Linked DNA regions of Homo sapiens: region 2 is linked to region 1. The links come from fine-mapping of genetic effects on gene expression. Tissue or cell type: skeletal muscle. Region 1 holds a variant in brackets; the other region holds the start of a gene. All regions are shown on one strand. Distances are between the middles of the regions.

The links. PIP is the estimated chance that this variant, and not a neighbour inherited with it, causes the effect.
Region 2: BAIAP2 starts here. The variant in region 1 is fine-mapped to the expression of BAIAP2 in skeletal muscle (GTEx, PIP above 0.99).

What each region holds. Positions count from the first base shown.
Region 1 is chr17:81,054,248-81,062,247 of GRCh38, reverse strand. It overlaps BAIAP2 (BAR/IMD domain containing adaptor protein 2), which reads right to left. Exons shown (of 14, transcript NM_001144888.2): 3 at 4,281-4,367. Among named protein-coding and RNA genes, the nearest start is that of BAIAP2, 23 kb to the right of the region's middle. RefSeq lists enhancers at 3,476-4,367, 4,368-5,257, 5,258-6,149. The variant G/C (reference allele first, on the strand shown) is at 4,714.
Region 2 is chr17:81,027,884-81,038,194 of GRCh38, reverse strand. BAIAP2 (BAR/IMD domain containing adaptor protein 2) reads right to left here and starts at 3,044. Exons shown (of 14, transcript NM_001144888.2): 1 at 2,887-3,044. The coding sequence starts at 2,940. BAIAP2-DT (BAIAP2 divergent transcript) reads left to right here and starts at 3,476. Exons shown (of 2, transcript NR_026857.1): 1 at 3,476-3,630; 2 at 4,797-9,062. RefSeq lists enhancers at 629-1,181, 2,232-3,227, 6,463-7,070, 7,071-7,679 and a silencer at 3,099-3,408.

The DNA of each region.
Region 1 (8,000 bases):
TGGGTGCGATGGCTCATGCCTGTAATCTCAGCACTCTGGGAGGCCGAGGCAGGCAGATCACTTGAGAGCAGGAGTTTGAGAGCAGCCTGGACAACATGGTGAAACCCCATCTCCACTAAAAATATACAAATACAAAAATTAGGCGGGTGTGGTGGCCGGTGCCTATAATGCCAGCTACTTGGGAGGCTGAGGCAGGAGACTCGCATGAACCTGGGAGGTGAAGGTGGCAGTGAGCCGAGATTGCACCCCTGCACTCCAGCCTGGGTGACAGAGTGAGATTCGGTCTCAAAAAAAACTAAAACCACTATTACAAAAAGGAAAGGCCCACCAGACTGAAAGCAAATATGTGCAAAATAGATTCCTGGCAAGGGACTTCCATCTAGAGTATACAGAGGACTCTCGTAACTTAAGAAGACAAAAGCCAAGTGAAACAAAGGGGGAAGATTCGAACACACACTTCACCAAGAGAGATCAGTGGTGAACAAAAACACAAAAAGATGCTCCACAACATCAGTTAATTAAGGAAATGAAAATTTAGGAACGCCCCAAGCTAAAAACACCCAGGTGTCCATCAACAGATGAGGGTACGGCCAAACTGTGGCACCTCCGCACAACAGGACCCTGCAAGCGACGAAATGCAACAAATTCCTGACGCGCGCAGCAGGAAGGCAGCTCAGAATAACCACGCACACCCGAGGAAGCTGGACAAAAAAAGAAGACACGCCGTATGGTTCCATGTATGTAAAACTCCAGCAAATGCATGCTAAATTACAGTGACAGAAAGCGGATCAGTGGTTGCCTGGAGATGGGGAGGGAGGGCCCGAGGACTCTTCGAGAGACGGACAAGTTCACCATTGTGATTGTGGCCACAGCTTCACAGGTGTACACACGTCAAAACTCATCACACTGGACACTCAGACACCTCGATGAAGTTGTACAAACAGTCATCATAATACACCGTCTGCCTTAGCCATGAAAAGAATTTATATCATCAGATAACACCGTACATGAGTTTAAACAAATACTGTGATAATTATACTGGGTGGGGCAAGGGACAGCATAAAAAGGCTAAGTCCACATCTTCCGTAATAAGAATCCTTTCGATGATGTCTAAACTTTTTTTTGAGACGGAGTCTCGCTCTGTCTCCCAGGCTGGAGCGCAATGGCACCATCTCGGCTCACTGCAACCTCCGCCTCCCAGGTTCAAGCGATTCTCCTGTCTCAGCCTCCCTAGTAGCTGGGATTACAGGCGCATGCCACCACGCCCGGCTAATTTTTTGTATTTTAGTAGAGATGGGGGTTTCACCATGTTGCCCAGGCTGGTCTCGAACTCCTGACCTCAGGCAATCCACCTGCCTCAGCCTCCCAACGTGCTAGGATTACAGGTGTGAGCCACCGCGCCCGGCCCTGTTGGAGGTAGAGGAGGAGGAGGAGGAATGGCATAAACCTGCCCTCTTAGACACGCAGCCGAGGGAGCCGCCTCTGTGCAGTAGGACTTGGCCACACTAGGAGGGTGGGAAGTGGCTGACTTTGTTTGAAACAAGGATGTGTTGCTTTCATAAAAACTCAACTCCCAGCCATCTGACCCGGCAATTCCAGTTTCGGTGCATGCCCAGGAGAGATGAAAACAGGCTCACAGCTGCCGGAAGGTGACAGCAACCCCAGATAAATGAAATGGGTCTGCCTGTGCAATGGATCATCGTTCAGCCACAAACAGGAATGAAGCCCTGACACGGGCTATAGCACAGAGGGACGGTAAACATGTGCTCAGGGAAAAGGGTCAGACACAGAAGGTCACACACCGTATGACTCCATTTATATGAAATGTCTAGAATGGGCCAGTCCGGAGAGACAGACACAGTGGTGTGGCTGCCAGGGGCTGGGAGCGTGGGGATGAGGGAGGGACTGCTTAAGGGGTATGGGATTTCTTTTTGGGGTGCTAAAAACGCTTTGGGGTGATAAAAATGCTTTGGAGTTAGATGGGGCAATGGTTGCACACTGTAAATACACTAAGCCACAGAACTGTACACTCTAATGGGGTAACTGTATGGCATGTGAATTCTGTCAATCAAGCTGTTACCGGGAAGAAAACCTGACTCCCAGAGCAAGGCTGACATGTGGCTGGCCCTCTGCAGATGCACACAGCGGGGCTCCACGCTCCAGGAGGAGCCCGGGGAGAGATTCCAAAAGGCCACAGGTAAACAGACGCTCCCTGATCCAAGTAAGAGCCCTCACGTCTCCCTCTCTTCTGAAGCTTCCCTCCTCCTCCTTGTGCCCATGTGGGCTCAGCGCCTTCTTGCAGTCAACCACCAGGGACTCCGCCAACAGGAAGTTCTGGAATCCCACCCATTTCGGACCCACCCACCCCTCACTGTGGGCCACAAGAGCCTGGAGTTCCCCACGGGCAGACCCTCATGCGACCAAGGGGCGAAGACACCTGGTCCTCTACCTCATCTCCTCAACACCTGGTTAATTATGGTAAGACAATGCCTCTTTCAGCCAGGCGTGGTGGCTCACGCCTATAATCCCAGCAGTCTAGGAGGCTAAGGTGGGAAGATCACTTGAGCCCAGGAGCTCAAGACCAGCCTGGGCAACACAGTAAGACCTTTTCTCTACAAAAAATTAAAAATAAAAAATCAGCTGGGCGTGGTGGCGCACGCCTGTGGTCCCAGCTACTAGGGAGGCTGAGGCAGGAGGATCACTTGAGCCCATGAGTTCAAGGCCACAGTGAGCCACGATAGTTCTGCATTCCAGCCTGGGCGACAGAGCAAGACCCTGTCTCTAATGAAAAAGAAAATGCCCCTTTCACAGACACCCACTGCTTCTGCCCTTCTCCAAACCCTGAAGACCCGGTCAGGGCCCAGGAGCTCCAAGGCAGGCTGCTGTTGGTTGCACTGGAGTCTCAGCCTCCGTCACCCTAACACCATGCATCTCACACGTCATCCTCCAGGCTGAGTCTGCGGAGGCCCGGGGACCCCGCCCAGAGTGCCTCCTCCTCTCCTCCCCAGTCTGTCAGCACAGCGGTGCCTCGAGAAACTCCAGCCGCCCGGGCATCACCAGACCTGCAGCAAACACGCCAGCGGGCCTGCCCAAGGCAGCAGCCTGTGGGGGCGTGGGGGGGGGGCTCCGATGAGGGTCCGCAGGGGGCTGCGAAGTGCGGCCGGCAGGTCTGCCTCCCGGCGCAGGACGTCGTGAGTGAACTGGAGAGAACGGGGCCTGGACAGGCAAAGCTGGGTTCCTGGGGTCCCAGCCCCAGAGCCTCAGCATTAGGGAGACGGAGCCTCTTCTGGGAGCTGGAAGTGACACAGAGCAACCCACGACCCCCCAGCCCACCGCCTGCCGACTCAGCCAGGGCCTCTGTCAGTCAAGGGGGCTTTCAGTCCCCGAGAAGAAAAGTAGAAAGAAGGGAACAGGGCCAGTCACAGTGACTCTTCCCCATCCGAGGGTCTCCAGACCTGCAGACCACCTCCCAGATTGGCGGCCACGGGGAGACGGTCAAGAGTGAGCGCAGCCTGTCCTCCGTGACCAGAGGGAAGAGGAATCCAAGTGGTTTCTCCAGCGACTCAGGCTTCCTTGTGCGTCAAGGGCCGCTCTGCCGGCCACAGCTCGCTCTGGGAGCAGCAAGTGAGCACAGGCAGCCGGCCCGGGGTCTCCCAGGCGGGCAGAGGAAACCTCAGCACCACCCTGCTAGGTGAGGGGACTGTGGAAGCATGGACTCCGTCTAAGCCACGCCTGCAGCACCACCACGTGGGCCCTGAATTTCCAGGTTTCACCCTGTGTCCCTTGACATAGACGTCACAGGAGCGATCACAGAAAATTTGCTAAACACAGACAAAGCATCAATAACATAACCTGCCCTCCAGGAAATCCACCCACTCACGCTGCTGGGGTGTCTTCCTCAGGGCCACACCACACGTGGGCTTGCATCCTTTTTCACTCATTTTAATACCAGGAATGAATTCCCACGCCATCTAATCCCATCATCCAAGCACACAGACCCCCATGTCAGCCGCTCCAATTTGCCGGGAACACTTTTAAACGTGGGTTTGCCTGCTGTCCTCACCCCAGGCTGCACGCCTCAGGGGACGGGGACCCAGCACCCACTTTCAGCAGGGTGTGCCCCACAAGGCAGCTCCCAGGGTGACTGTCATTAAAATATTTTCCTATTTGACAGGCAAAACCTGATCCCAAATCAAAAAGCGGCTGGACACAGGACAGGGCCCCAGAGCTGCCTGAGGGCATCAGGCGACTACCAGGCGGGGGGGGGGGGGGGGTCTCACCGAGTTCTTTGGAGCCCTGGCTCTCGCTGGCCAGCTCCCCCATCTTCACCAGGGCGTCAAAGTAGCCTTTGGCTGCATACGTCACACCTGAGAGAGAAGAAAAGGGAGCAGTTATTTCCTCCACGAGGGACAGACAAGACCCCCAGCAAAAACACGGCAGTCTTGGCACGCACAGGCCCAACCCTGTCTCCTGCCCAGACAAGCTGGGAGAATACTCGACTCGCTGTGATTTCTGGGTTGGACAGAACCCATCTCTTGTTGATATTCTTGTTTCACCCCAATCATGAGAGCTCCCTTGACTCGTAAGAACACAACGTACCAGTTCAGGTCCTGAGCTATTCAAGTCAAATTGCAGAGAGCTGATCCCTATCACGTGCTACCAGGCAGGGCCGGGGGGAGGGAGTGTTGTACTAACTGTATTTCATGAGACAAA[G/C]AACCAACCCTGGGCAAGGAAACTGCAGAGCTGGGCAGTAGGAAGCCATTTCCCCACAGATCCCCAAGCTGAGCCTGGAGTGGGAGAACTATTTCCAATTGCTTCACAGTCTCAGACCAGGACGCCCGTCACAGCTGATCAAAGGAGGCTAAAGGCATTACTTGGTATTGCCGCCGCCTGAGGGGCCTCCCAGCATCTCAGAGGCAGAGTCTGATCTAATCAGAAGTGGGTGTGAAGGGCTCCGGGCCTGCTGAACTCCTCCACAGCCACAGGGGTGGAGCAGGCTCCTGGAAGAGCCTGGGCTTCCTCCTCAGGGACTCCAGGGAGTGCCTGGCAAACTCCTCCACCTGACAGGGAGCCCCGCCCTGACCTCCAGGCCGCAGAAAGGGCGGGGCAGGGCCCCGGAGAGCAGTGTAATTACAATTTCTAATCCGTTTTCTACAGAACCCACTTAGGGGCCTATAACTGGGCACTTTATCAGATTTTATTTATATACTTTTCAATTAAGCGCACAATTTGTTCTGCGGCACAAGACCACGTCCACAGAGGAATGAAGGCCTGTGCCTGGGACGGGTGTGCTGCCTCGAACAAAAGAAAAACGCAACAGCAGAAAAACGCAACAGCAGAAAAACGCAACAGCAGAAAAACGCAACAGCAGAAAAACGCAACAGCAGAAAAACGCAACAGCAGAAAAACGCAACAGCAGAAAAACGCAACAGCAGAAAAACGCAACAGCAGAAGTGAGACTCCAGGGCGGCTGGCTGCGGCTAAGGTGGCGGTGCTGCCTGGACGGCCGAGCTCATTCCCACCAGGCCATCAAGAAAAGCAGGAGCAGGAAGTAAAGCTCCAAGTCTCCACACTCAGCCCCGCCACCCTCATGAGGAACCAAACAGGAGCGGAAAGGCCCGAACGGAACCCACGCCTTGGTGGCATCAAAGGGCCGAAGTGCCTGCTCACCCAGAGGAGGGGAACACAGGCCCCGGCCCCCACCGCAACCCACTGAAAGCGGCATCCACACCACTTCCCCGTGTGCGGACGACGGGGAAGAAACCCACACCTCGGAGAGCCACGTGAGGGCTACGGAAGACTCTACCGTAGATGAGGTCACCAAGTGTCCCACAGACGAGTGGCTCTGGAAAAAGGAAGCCATCGTCAGTCTGCAATGTGCAAGACCAGCCCCCATCTCCAGGGGTGGGATCATCTGGACTCTGGATTCTCATTGTAATGGCCAAGATTCAGACCCAGCCAGGAAGAGATGAACAACTGGTCTCATTCACAGGGCACGGAACTTAGCTGGGCCCGGAGAATCTGGACATCGTGTGCTGTGCCTAGAGATCATGGGGTCACCACAGTTGGAAGCCCTCTGCACCCACCTCGAGCCGGGCCTCAGCCTTCCTACTCTGATTCGGGAGCCTCTCTCCAGCGTCAACATTTCAGGCCAGAGGCAAAGGCAGCTCTCCCTGGGACCCCCATGAAGCTGCCCAACAACTGGGGTGCACCATAGGGAAGCAAACCAGGTGCAACTTCCACCAGGAGGCCACGCCGACCCTCAGAGCTGCCACAGGCTCTGCTGCCGACCTCCACTACCTCATCCAAGAAGCTCCTGGCTGGGGGACGGGGGTCACTGCCACAGCCCAAGCATCTCCACTGTCATGAAAACCCTGCAGACGGCCGGGCGCGGTGGCTCACCCCTGTAATCCTAGGCACTTTGGGAGGCTGAGGCGGGCGGATCACGAGGTCAGGAGATCGAGACCATCCTGGCTAACACAGTGAAACCCCGTCTCTACTAAAAATACAAAAAATTAGCCGGGCGTGGTGGCAGGCACCTGTGGTCCCAGCTACTCGGGAGGCTGAGGCAGGAGAATGGCGTGAACCCGGGAGGCAGAGTTTGCAGGGAGCCAAGATAGCGCCACTGCAGTCTGGCCTGGGCAACAGAGTGAGACTCCGTCTCAAAAAAAAACAAAACACCCTGCAGACTTTCGCTGGAGGAAGGACAGCTCTTTAAGACAATTTTGATGAGCAGGTCCCTCGGGTGCAACCCCGGGCCCAGGGATGTAGAGGAGGGGCAGGGTGGAGAGAAACAAGGCTGCTGCTGGGGCAGCCATGGGGGCCCCTGCAGGGTGCCGGGTGCAAACAGGAGGTGGCCCAAGGGAGCTCCCTGTCCCATTCATGCCCACAAGGAAACATGAAGGCCACCCCCAACTAGATGTGGCAGGCGGGCACAACTGGTCCACCTGGGGAGCTGAGAAGGAGGGCAGTGCCAGGGACAGGCCTTCTGCCAGGTGCTCGGTTGGAGTGCTTTCTCCCCAGGTGACAACGGAGTAAAGGTGGTAAAAAAGGAACGAGGGCTGACCAACTCCTGCCCCGTCCTTGACACCTCTAACCTGGCACCAAAACTGGACAACCAACTCCACCCAACCCATGGGTGCCGCAACACCAGGAAGCGGTGGAGGAGCCGGGGGCGCCGGCAGAGACGCAGCACGTGTCCCGGAAAACACACGATCTCCTCCCTGCTGGGGATGTGGACTCTGCCCATGAAGATGCTGCAGTTACAGGGACAGACACGGTAGAGGGTACAGGGAGACCGGGGGTCACTGTCCAAGAATAGCAAGTCCCCATCCATGGCAGGACTCAGCCAAGGGCACCTGCGGGGCCAACAGGGCAGGTGAGAAGGGCATCTGGCGACAAGGAAGCCACTCCCCACCAGGACGGAAAGACCCAGGTGCACCCAAGGCCCCGCAGTGGAGTGCCTGGGTGGGGTGGGGGCGATGGGAAGCGTCTCAGGGAGACAGTGGGAAGAATGGAATGTCCCTGCAGCCACCAGTCCCCCACACCCTCTGTCCCGGCTCTTTGTGAGAAGGAGCTGCAGGGCGTTCGCTCATTTCTCAAACCCGAAGCTGCTGCAGTTACCAACAGCTTCATCCCAGCCCTGATCCCACAGTTTCTACATGATCCTGAGGGACTGACATCCGCACCCCTCCCGTCTCTAGATGCCACAGGACAAGAGCAGCCCGCACAGGCAGGGGCGTGCTGCCACAGTGACAGCAGACCCAGTCCAGAATGCATGGGCTACACCTTCACTCAGAGCCGCTGTCCAGCTTTGTTGCTGGAACAGAAGACCTCCTTTCGCTCCTGACCAGGCCCCACAGGCTGTGCCCAAGTCCATCTGCCAGCTCAGGAGGCAGCTCCCACCCCACGGGGCCCGGGCACAGTTCTACCAGCTCAGGAGGCAGCTCCCACCCTTGGGGCCAGGGCACAGTTCTACCAGCTCAGGAGGCAGCTCCCAC
Region 2 (10,311 bases), 25 kb after region 1:
GGGGGAGGCAGATTCCAGCACTCCATCCCTCCATCTGGGCCACTACCCAGGGCAACCTGAGCAAGCGCTGGGCCCGGGCTCCTGTGGAGGAAGGGGTCTTCCGCGCCTTGCCCTCCCAACACCTGCAGGGCCCAGCCCACGCAGTGCCCCCAGAAGGTCTGAGATTATGTTCTCGGCAAACACCGGGAAGCCGTTCCACTCCCCTCCCCTTCATCTTCCATGAAATTCCCCGAGGACACAGCTCCCAAGGGAATGGAGCCACCAGAAAAGAGGTCAAAGTCTGCGTTACGGATTCTTACGGGGAAGAAAATCAAAACTGCACTTTTTATTCTCGCATTTTTAATCACCAAGGCCAAGGACAAGCGTCCTCCTTTGCCAAGGCAAACACCACTCAGAACTGCAGTTAAGGCGATGCAATGTCCAAACCAAACCAAACAGCTGAGCCGCATCGCGGGTGACACTAAGCAGGCCACAGCACAGCCGTTCCAAGAGGCACTGCCAGGGCTCTGCAAGCCGCCAACCCAGGCACAGGAGCGGCCCCGGGAAGGGATGCCAGAGGCAGCACCGTCCCAGGAGAGGACAGAGCTCAGCACTGCCTGGACCGGCTGGACCGGCCCAGGAGTGCACACCGGTGGCCTCAGCGGTCTCCTGACTATGTCTCCATGTGGGCTGAGTTTCTGCCTGGCTGACATTGCCAAAAGCTGCCCAACCAGTACCGGCACTACCAAGGCACCTTGAGCTCCCCAGTGACAAAGCACAAAAAGGTCTCAAAGACTCAGCAGTCAGGCTCCCGGAGTGGCAGCAGGAGCCACCTACCTACAAAACCAACCCCGCCTGTGTGCAGCAGCAGCAGCGCAAGCCTGTCACCAGGGCAAAGCCTTTCCAGAGTGGATCGACCCTTCAGACACCTGCGGCCCACCGCGTCCTGCCGTGCTAAATCAAATCATCAACCGCCACATCTTCACTTGGGAAAATCACCAATTAACCCACCCGTGGAAGACAAAACGCAGAACCTGTGTGTTTCACGTGCTCCAGACCAGCTGGTCTGCGTCCACAGGGGCTCAAAGTCCCCAAACACTCAGTCCTAAGAGTTTTCCTGCCAGCAGATTTCACTTAGACCTGCAGATAAATTACAGCTTCACCTAGGTGAAGGCCTACTGCCCGGTTAGGAGAGTTTTATTAAGGACGATCACGGGGTCGGTCCCCCAGAGCAAAACCACTCCATGTACTCACCCCCTGCCAACTCTCACCACGAAAGTTCCTGCTTTCTGGTTTCAGCGCAGAAGGAGAAAAAATAGGAAAAAGGTTCCGCTGGTACTTCTCTTCCACCCTCTGCAATCACAAACAAGTCGTAATGGAGCTAATGACTAATAATTTAATAAACCTCCCTCCCTTGACAACATGTGCTTCCACAGAGCAACAAGGCCAGAACCGTATGCCACAGACTCTGTGAAACCAAACCTAACAACCCCAGGGCCTGTGCCTTTCCCAAGCCGACTCCTCAGGTCACCCTGAATCCTGTTTCCCAGTGGCTCCGACGTGGCTTTAGGACTCATCTAGTCGACCGCACACCCGCCTTCAGAAACCTTCCAGACTGACGCGGCCCCAACTTCACAAGCTTTATTGAAAGCTGTATTCAAGTGCAATCGGCCCCCTGCACTCCAGCTGGAACCAGAGGGGCCACCCCTGAAGCCTCCATCTGGCTCTCCCAAGCCTGAGAGCTAAGAGGGCTTCCCAGGCCCCTGGCCAGGCACGCCTTGGCCGCCTACCACAATCAGAAACAGTTACTCTGCCGGGCAGGGTGCAAGCCGGTTAGGAAACATGAACCAGCGACTGCCGGGTAAATACCCACTCCACTCATCGCCCAGCCTGTCACTGAACCTGCAGACAGTTTTGAAACAAAGCACATCTGTAAGAGATCGCCCAGGACCCAGGGACACCCAGAGCAGGGGTTTCTCCTCTGAGAAAATGCTCCCCGGCAGCTGCCGGGCTCAGGCGTGGGGGTCTGGACCGAGAACGGATGCTGAAGAAAGAGAAAACCAAGGGCCTGTTTGTCGGTATCCCAGCCACAAAAACGACTGGGGAGGGGGCGGCAGGGGAGGCTTCCAGCGGTGCTCTGCGGCCCTTGGATGTGAACCTGTCATTTCGCAGACGAGAACGTGGATGCCACTCTTAACACATCTGAAGCAAAGGCAGGCACGTCAGCCTCCTACACAATTAGTCTTCTCTCTCCGCGGTTACATAAGATGATAGATTATCCGTCCACCCATCCAGCCTGCCCGCGCTCCGACCTCCCACCTTAGGCCCCAGCATGGGCGCCGGGCAGGAGTTGTGGGAAGGGAAAGCCTGTTGAGAATGAAGTGCCCGAGGCTCGCGCAACCGCGCCTGGAGGAGCCCCACGGTGCCACCGCGCCGACCGCGGCCTTCAGACAGCCCCCATGCCGTCCTGGCCGCCGCAACCCCTGGGCCCGCCGCCCCCGCCGCCCCGGCCCTGCCCGGGTGTGCTACGACCCCGACCGGTCCGAGGGCTTCCGGGGCCCGGCGCGCGGCTCCGTTCCCGCCGACGCCAAGGCGAGCGCGCGGGGGCCGAGCAGGGCCGTCGGAGCGGGGAGTGCTCCCCGGGCCTGGGGCTGGGGACTGACCGGGCCGCGGCGCGCATGGGATGGGGGGGCCCGGGCGGGGGTGGCCACCTGTGAGCGGCCGGCGCCGGGCTCACCACCCCAGCAGCCCGGGTCCCGGGTGGCCGCGCCGGGAAGACCCCCAAAGTCCCAGCCTCCTGGCCCGGCGCGCGGCCCCGGGGCCGCCCTGGTCGGGCTCGGGCGCGCGGGCGGCGCGCGACCCAGGCGCACACGGAGCGGGCTCAGCTCGGCGCCGGGGGGCGCTCACCTTATAGACATTTTCCGTGAGCCGGTGCATCTCCTCTGAGCGAGACAGAGACATGGTCCTGGGTCCCGGCTGCACCACAGACCGGAGCGGGGGACGCAAGCGGCGGCAGCAGCGGCGGTAACGGCAGCAGGACGGAGACGAAAGCGGACCCGAACCACAGAGCCCGGCGTCCGGCGGCGGCCACCTTTATAGCCGCCTCAGGCCCCGCCCCGCGGCAGTCCCCGCCCCTGCGTCCCGCCCCCGTTGCGCCCGCATCACCGCCCCCGACCACCCGCCCCCGCCCGGCGCTGCCGCTGCTAGGCAACCGCCAGGCCCCGCCCCCGCACCGCCCTTTCCATTGGTGGGTTCCGGAGAAGGGGGAGGGGGGCGGGATCGGAGGTGGGGCCTAGTGGCCGACTCCAGGCAGCGATTGGTCTGCGGCGGCGTCGATCCTGGGGGAGGAGAGGGGAGGCGCGGCGCGGGCTGGGGCCCTGGGAGCAGCCTGAGGGGGCCCGGGCAACAGCCGGGCTGGGGGCGGGGAGGCGGGGGCGGGGTGGCGCAGGAAGAAGGAGCAGAAGGTGCGGGGAGGAGAGCGGGGGGCGCCGGCGGCAGCGCGCGTGGAGGCGGCACTTCGCGAAGTGGCACTTCGGGGCGGGCGGCCCGCCGGGTCGCGGCCTGGCGCTGCGGGGCGGGGAGCGGCTCGGACGCAGGACGCCGCGGGCCGGGCTTACAGGTGGGAGAGGCCCCGACCCCGCCGCTTCGCAGGTAAGCCCGCCGGGCGGGCGGCGACCCCCCGGCCGGCCCCTCGGGGCAGAGAGGAGAACCCTGGGGGAGGGGGTGCTGCAGGAGGACCCTGGAGAGAGCTCGGCCCTGGAGTGGGGGACGACTTGGAGAAGGAGGATTTCGGGGGAGCATCGTGAGGAGAGGACTTGGAGGGAGGATCCTGCAGAAGGTGAACTCTGGGGAGGACCCCAGACAGGCAGACAGCGCTTGGGGGCTTGGGGCCGGGATTCTGGAGAGGGGAGGACCCTGGGAGAGGAGGGTTGGGGAAGAGGATCTTGGAGGAGGGCCCTGGGAAGGAGGATCTGGAGAGGGGACAGGGGAGTGTCCTGCTGGAAGGCCTGGGGACAGGGCGACCCTTAGGGACGGGGAGGACCCTCCTGCCGTCAGAAGATTCTCGTTGGAGGCAGTTTACTGAGAGAGAGAGGTCTCGGGAAGGAAGGGTCGAGGGCAGTAGGAAACGAGGGGCCCGGAGGACTCTCATGCGGTGGAAAGCCCTAGGGGGTGGGGGAACCTTGTAGGAGGAATGGAGGAGTCAGAGCTGCCTCCAATTTTTAGGAAGGGTCCTGCTTAAGGGTCCTCCCAAGGGGAGATTCTGCCGGGGAAGCTGGCCGAGTTGGCACACAGGTCTCCCGGTACAATTCCCGTGGAGAAATATTTACATAAATTAGGCTAACATAGAGGAATTATTTGTTTTACGTTGTGAAACACCAGATCTGAGCGTTTCCGTTTAATGAAACCTCTCAGTCTCCCAGCCTCCCATCCCTGCAAAATCATTCATTCATTCATTCCTTCAACGAGTCAGGCCCCTGGGGGAGACGCAGTTGTGCTGGCTGGCCGGCAGATCCCCAGACTGGCACGGGCTCAGGCCGATGGAAAGACCAGGGAAGTAAGATTCAGGAAGCATTGCCTCCCTCCCACCACAGCCCCGCGCCTCCTCTCCTCCGGCTGAATTTCCTTCCAGCTACTGGCCCTGGCTGCTTCCTTTTTCTTTATTGTCTCCAGTGTTTGGGGGTAGATCCCTGTGTATTTATTTTCTAGGATTCTTTTGGTGGTAAATGACAGAAAGCTCGCTCAAACTGGCCCTAACAAATGAGGGCATTTACCTGAAGGTAGGAGCATCTCCACTGACCCTGACCCCCTTCTTCTAGGCCAGCTTCCTGCTGTGTTCCCTGCACCCACCGATCTCACACGCAGCCCTAGGACAGACGTCCACTGGCCTGAGTTGGGTCTGGGGCCAACACGGAGCAGGTGGGGGTAGAGCAGCTCTGCTCGCCTGGAGGAAAGTTGAATGGCTGGAACCAAGATGACAGATGGAGGCTGGCAGGCAAACACGGGAGGCCTCCTCACTCCAAGAGGGGAGTCAGCCTGGGGACAGTTCTTCTCCAGGCCCTGCTGCTCCCATCAGCTGCAACACAGGAGAGGTAGGCTTCTCCGGAAAAGCTCCCACGGTCCTGGATCCCGCTCCACCTTCTAGAAGCTCCCAGCGTTACTTCCTGAGCTGGCCTGCACATCGTTGCGCTACTCCCGTCCAAGGGGGGACATATTCGGTGACCGACTCAGAACGCAGCCTGCTTCCCGGGTGGCCAGTGGCTCAGCAGTCTCGGTGCCTGAGCCTGCTCCCTCCGCCCGGCGGCTGGGCAGGTGGCTGAATGCGGGCTGGAGGCCTTCCCTGAGAAGACGGTTATCCATGCTGTACATGGAAGTGACCAGCTCGGCACCTGAGGAGACACACCGCGGCCGATGACAGGCGCAGAGCAGGACGTGGTGAGGTCCTCATACCTAGGAATGCAGAACAAGGGCAAGAAACTCGGTGCCCGCCTGGCATCTGCCCTGCACCAGTGGCCTCCAGGAAGTTCTCCACCAAGGATGTTCCCCAGGCACTCTGTGCTCGCCTTCACCAGCGTCCTGTGAGGTCTTTCACACTGATGGGGAAGCCTTTCTAAAGGGTATTAGGGGGCTTGGGGGCTGGGGGTGCTGAGTACCAAGGGTCCCAGGAAGAGACAGGCCAGGCTTATGGGCTGGGCATCCAGAGATCGCCCTGACGCCAGCTCCAGGTGGAGTTAGGAGGGCACTCTTGTCCCGACGCATTTACAGACCACTCCCTCTTCTTGTTCCCCTCGACTCTGAGAGTGTGGTGGGGTAGCTGTGGAACCTGACTGCTTGCCTGAAGGTTGGGCAGCGTGGCTAGAAATTGCGGCCCAGACCTGGGATCTCACCCACACCTCTATGAGACGTCCTGAAGGAAACCATCGACTGAGCGGAGAGGCTTCGCCTTGCCCGCCTCCTCCCAGGAAGGAAGAGCGGAAGAGGCGTCGCCAGCCACCGAGACTGCCAGCCACCACCCCCTCCCAGACTCTCTGTCCCCACCCCAGACCAGGGTCACCTTCTTCCTGCACTGGGGGTGGGGTGCGGTAGGTTTCGCAATCCAGACTGTGGGGTGGGGGTGGGAGCAGGTGTGTGTAAATGAGCAGCTCGTCAGGAGTCACTGAGAAGGAGGCAGATGGAGCTGGTACCCAGCAGGTCTCCTCTCATAAGCGTCAACCCTCGCCTGGGCGGGCTGGGGGATCCTCAGCACCCCAGCTCTGAGCCAGGGGTCTGCAACCCGGGCACCAGCGATGGGCCCTCATGCACACAGGGCGCCGAGCGGGGCCGGAGGCAAGAGTGACTTCAGACAGGAACCCGACGCCACAGCCGGTGACGCGGACCCTGGGTCAGCCAGCACGATGGGCCGCTGGGGAGAGGAGGGCTGGAGGCAGAGAGTGTAAGTGTGCAGCCTTCATCAGCTTATTTTTAGTCGCGTTATGTAAGTGGCTTCATCTCAACGTCACATGGGGGGGGGTCTCAGATTTAATTACAGGATGACAGCCTTTGCTTTTCAAGCAAGCTGTTCTCCTGGCAAGCCAGGCGAAGGATTGGGGAGTTTTGCTAAACAGAAGGAGCCCTTTCTGAGGTGACCACCCGTCAAAACTTGAACCCGCTTCCACCTCCGTCTCCCTCTTCCCGACCAGCCTCACCCAGCCTCGGCTGAATGTGGCCTGAGAGTAGCCACTTGTCCGCAATCACAGGGACGTTTTATGCCTGTCAAGGGAGCTTCCTCTCTCCTCTTCCTCCCCCTCCCACCTTCTGCCTGGCAGCTTTGCCTTCTCTCCAAGAGAAGGGTCCACCCAATCAGAACTCCTCTTCCTTTTCATTCCTGGATTAAAGCACTTGTAATCAGTAACCAGAAAGTTCCAGAGCGGGAGAGACCGGAAGGCACTGGAGTGCTATCGGACGGGTGTCTGGGGCAGAGCCAGGAGGGCGAGCCTCTTCTCTCCCCGCCTGCCCTTGCTCACTTCCCCCTCCATGCCAGGTGCTGTGGGAGCAGCTGGGCCTGGCCGGGGTCGGCGGGTGAAGCTATCCGCATGGTGTCTGGAGCACCGTTTCTTTGCTTCCTGGATGGGCTGGATGGGCTCCCGTGTTCTTCACCAATGGCAGCGTTACCAGCACCAATGGCAGCGTTACCAGCAAGAAGGCAAAGGCAGGAGCACATCGAGGGTGGGAGCCAGGGCTGTGGGGTCAGGAGTCCCGCTCCTTGCCGCGGGAAGCCTGGCTCAGCCACCTCCAGCACACTTCGGCTTTGTCCAGCATAAAAGGCAGAGCGACGTTTTCACTGCAGGCTGTTTCCCACCAGGGCAAGTGGGACAGGGCGAGTGCTGACGTCTGCAGGCATGGTGTGCATTTAGGGGTGGGCGGCACCGAGGGGGCATCATTTGGCATAGGCGGGCCCGGGGGCCACTGGGCTAGATGACTGGCTGGTTGCTGGGGGCAGGTGTCACAGCCTCTCTGAGCACCCTCTAAGTGGAGGACAGAACATTGTTGGGAGGAGTCCAGGCATAAAGTGACATAAACAGCGCAGAGAATGGGACCAGCGCACCTGAGAGGTGATCATTAGCCTCAGCAACTGGATGGGACATTCCGAAGAGCTCCCAGCCAACACAGATGGTCACTCCAGAGGCTGACATTTAAAAGGAAGGGGCCCGGCCGGGCACAGTGGCTCACGCCTGTAATCACAACACTTTGGGAGGCTGAGGCGGGCAGATCAACTGGGGTCAGGAGTTCAAAACCAGCCTGGCCAACATGGTGAAACCGCATCTCTGCTGAAAATACAAAAAATTAGCCAGGCATGGTGGTGGGCACCTGTAATCCCAGCTACTCAGGAGGCTGAGGTAGGAGGATCGCTTGAACCCAGGAAGTAGAGGTTGCAGTGAGCCGAGATTGTGCCATTGCACTCCAGCCTGGGCGACAAGCGAAACTTCGTCTCAAAATAAATAAAAGTAAGGGGCACAGGGAGGGGGCCCCAGCTCGTGCCCCTTCTGTGTGGGCTGCACATGGTGACTTCCTTCCAGAGAGCACAGAGTGGGAGGTAGGCAAGGCGTCTCCACAGTGGAGAGCCCGACCCACTGTCTCAGCCCAGAGGTCAAGGCTGGCACCATCACCGAGAGGTCACACGGGCAGATGTGACAGGGCGCTTCACCACTGGGCTCTTCCTCCCAGACCCATAACCCTTGTCTTAGTATTAGAAAAACACTGGCAGACCGGGCGCAGTGGCTTACACCTGTAATCGCAGCATTTTGGGAGGCCGAGGTGGGAAGATTGTTCAAGAGCAGTCTGGGCAACATGGTGAGACCCCATCTCTACAAAAAAAATTTTTTTTTTAATTAGCCAGGCGTGATGGCACATGCCTGTGGTCCTAGCCACTAGAGGCTGAGGTGGGAGGATCACTGGAGCCCAGGAGGTCAAGGCTGCAGTGAGCTGTGATCACACCACTGCACTCCAGCCTTGGCGACAAACCAAGACCCTGTCTCGAAAAGAAAAGAAAAGAAACATTAGGCAAATCCCAACAGGGGGACACTCTACAGAAAAACCGACCAGCCCTCCTGAAAACTTCCCAAGTCATCAAAACCAAGGAAAGTGGGCTGGGCGCGGTGGCTCACACCTTAATCCCAGCACTTTGGAAGGCTGAGGCGGGCAGATCACAAGGTCAGGAGTTTGAGACCAGCCTAGCCAACATGGTGAAATCTCATCTCTAAAAATACAAAAATTAGCCGGGCGTGGTGGCAGGCGCCTGTAGTCCCAGCTACTCGGGAGGCTGAGGCAGGAGAATTGCTTGAACCCAGGAGGCGGGGGTTGCAGTGAGCTGAGATGATGCCACTGCATTCTGGCCTGGGTGACAGAATGAGACTCTGTCTCAAAATAAAAAAAACCAAAAACCAAAAAACAACCAAGCAAAGTCTGAGAAACTGTCACAGCCTAGAGGAACCTGGAGACAGCTGATCCCTAAATGTCACGTGGGATCCTGGGTGGGGTCCTGGGAGAGAAAGAAGACATTGGAGGGAAACTGAGGAAATATGAATAAAGTATGGGCTTTAGTTAATAATAATGTAGCAGCATTGATTCATTGATCATCATAAACACATGTACTGATGCAAGATGTCACCAAAGGGAAAACTGGGCTGGGGGGATGGGGGGGTGGCGGTATCTTTGTAACAATTGCATGAATGAAAAATGTGCTAGAGTTAAGGTTGTCATGGGAATGGGCAGTGATCTTGCACAGGCCTCCAGTTTTACCTGCAGGAGTCCGAAGGCGTCACCTGTGCCTCACCCTGGAATCTCGTCCTGGCCCCCAGGTCCCCACTCTGTCCACCTTGGGGTCAGTGGATGGAGCTGTTGCCCCTGTGGTCTGCTGCTGCTGATCACAGAGAGCCCCAGGGGGCCAGCACCCTGTGGAGTGGCCCCTTATCCCGAGGACAGGCACGTGGGCCCGCCCCCCACCTCGCCCCCTCCCCCGTCTGTGGCTGCGGCTGGACTGCCCGCAGTGGAGCTGGGGCTGTGAGGCGCGAGGGTCCTGCTGACGGCTCAGCCCTTCTGCCACCCCAGACGTGGTTCTCACCTGGCCTCCTTGGCAGATGGTGCCTTGGGTTTGCTGCCCACAACCCAGCGTGGCTCATGGCTGTCCTGCAGCCATAGTGTTGGCCAGACTTCTGGCCATAGCCAGGGAGATGCATTGCTGCCCATCCGGGCATCTGATGTCCCCTCTCTCCTCTCGCAGAGAGTACGTGGCCCGTGATGGGGAGGAAGTTCTGGAGGACAGGATGAGGCCACTGTCTCTAAGGCAGGGAGACCCTGCCTGCTCTGAGCAACACATGGGCAGAGGAGTGTGGGCATGGCCTCTCGGGCCCTTCCTGACCCTGTGTTGCCGTGGTCCAGCCTCAGCCCTCAAAGTGAGGCGGCCTACAGACAGAGCTTCCCTACAGACCAGGCCAGAAAGGCCAGAGGGGCTTCCTTCTGAGGGTGGTGGGGACAGACGACATGTGGCCTCCCTCCAGAGCCTGCCCTGGCGGGGGTGGGCGGGGAGAGGTTCCCCAGCAACAAGCCCCCTTATATAATCCAGCTCACATCGCGTGGCGTGACTCCAGGTGCCTGTGGGAGGCAGTGCGGGGGTGAGCACCGGGGCGCAAGTGAGTCTCAGAGTTTCGCTCCGTGCTCCTCCCCCCCTTGCTATATGTCAGCGTCATCCGGAGCCTGCCAGCCCGGTCACCCACTTGCTTATTAGAATACATTAGCTGACAATGTGGATTTAAATAACTCGGGCAGGTGACAGCCTGAAGCGCACCCAGCGTAGCT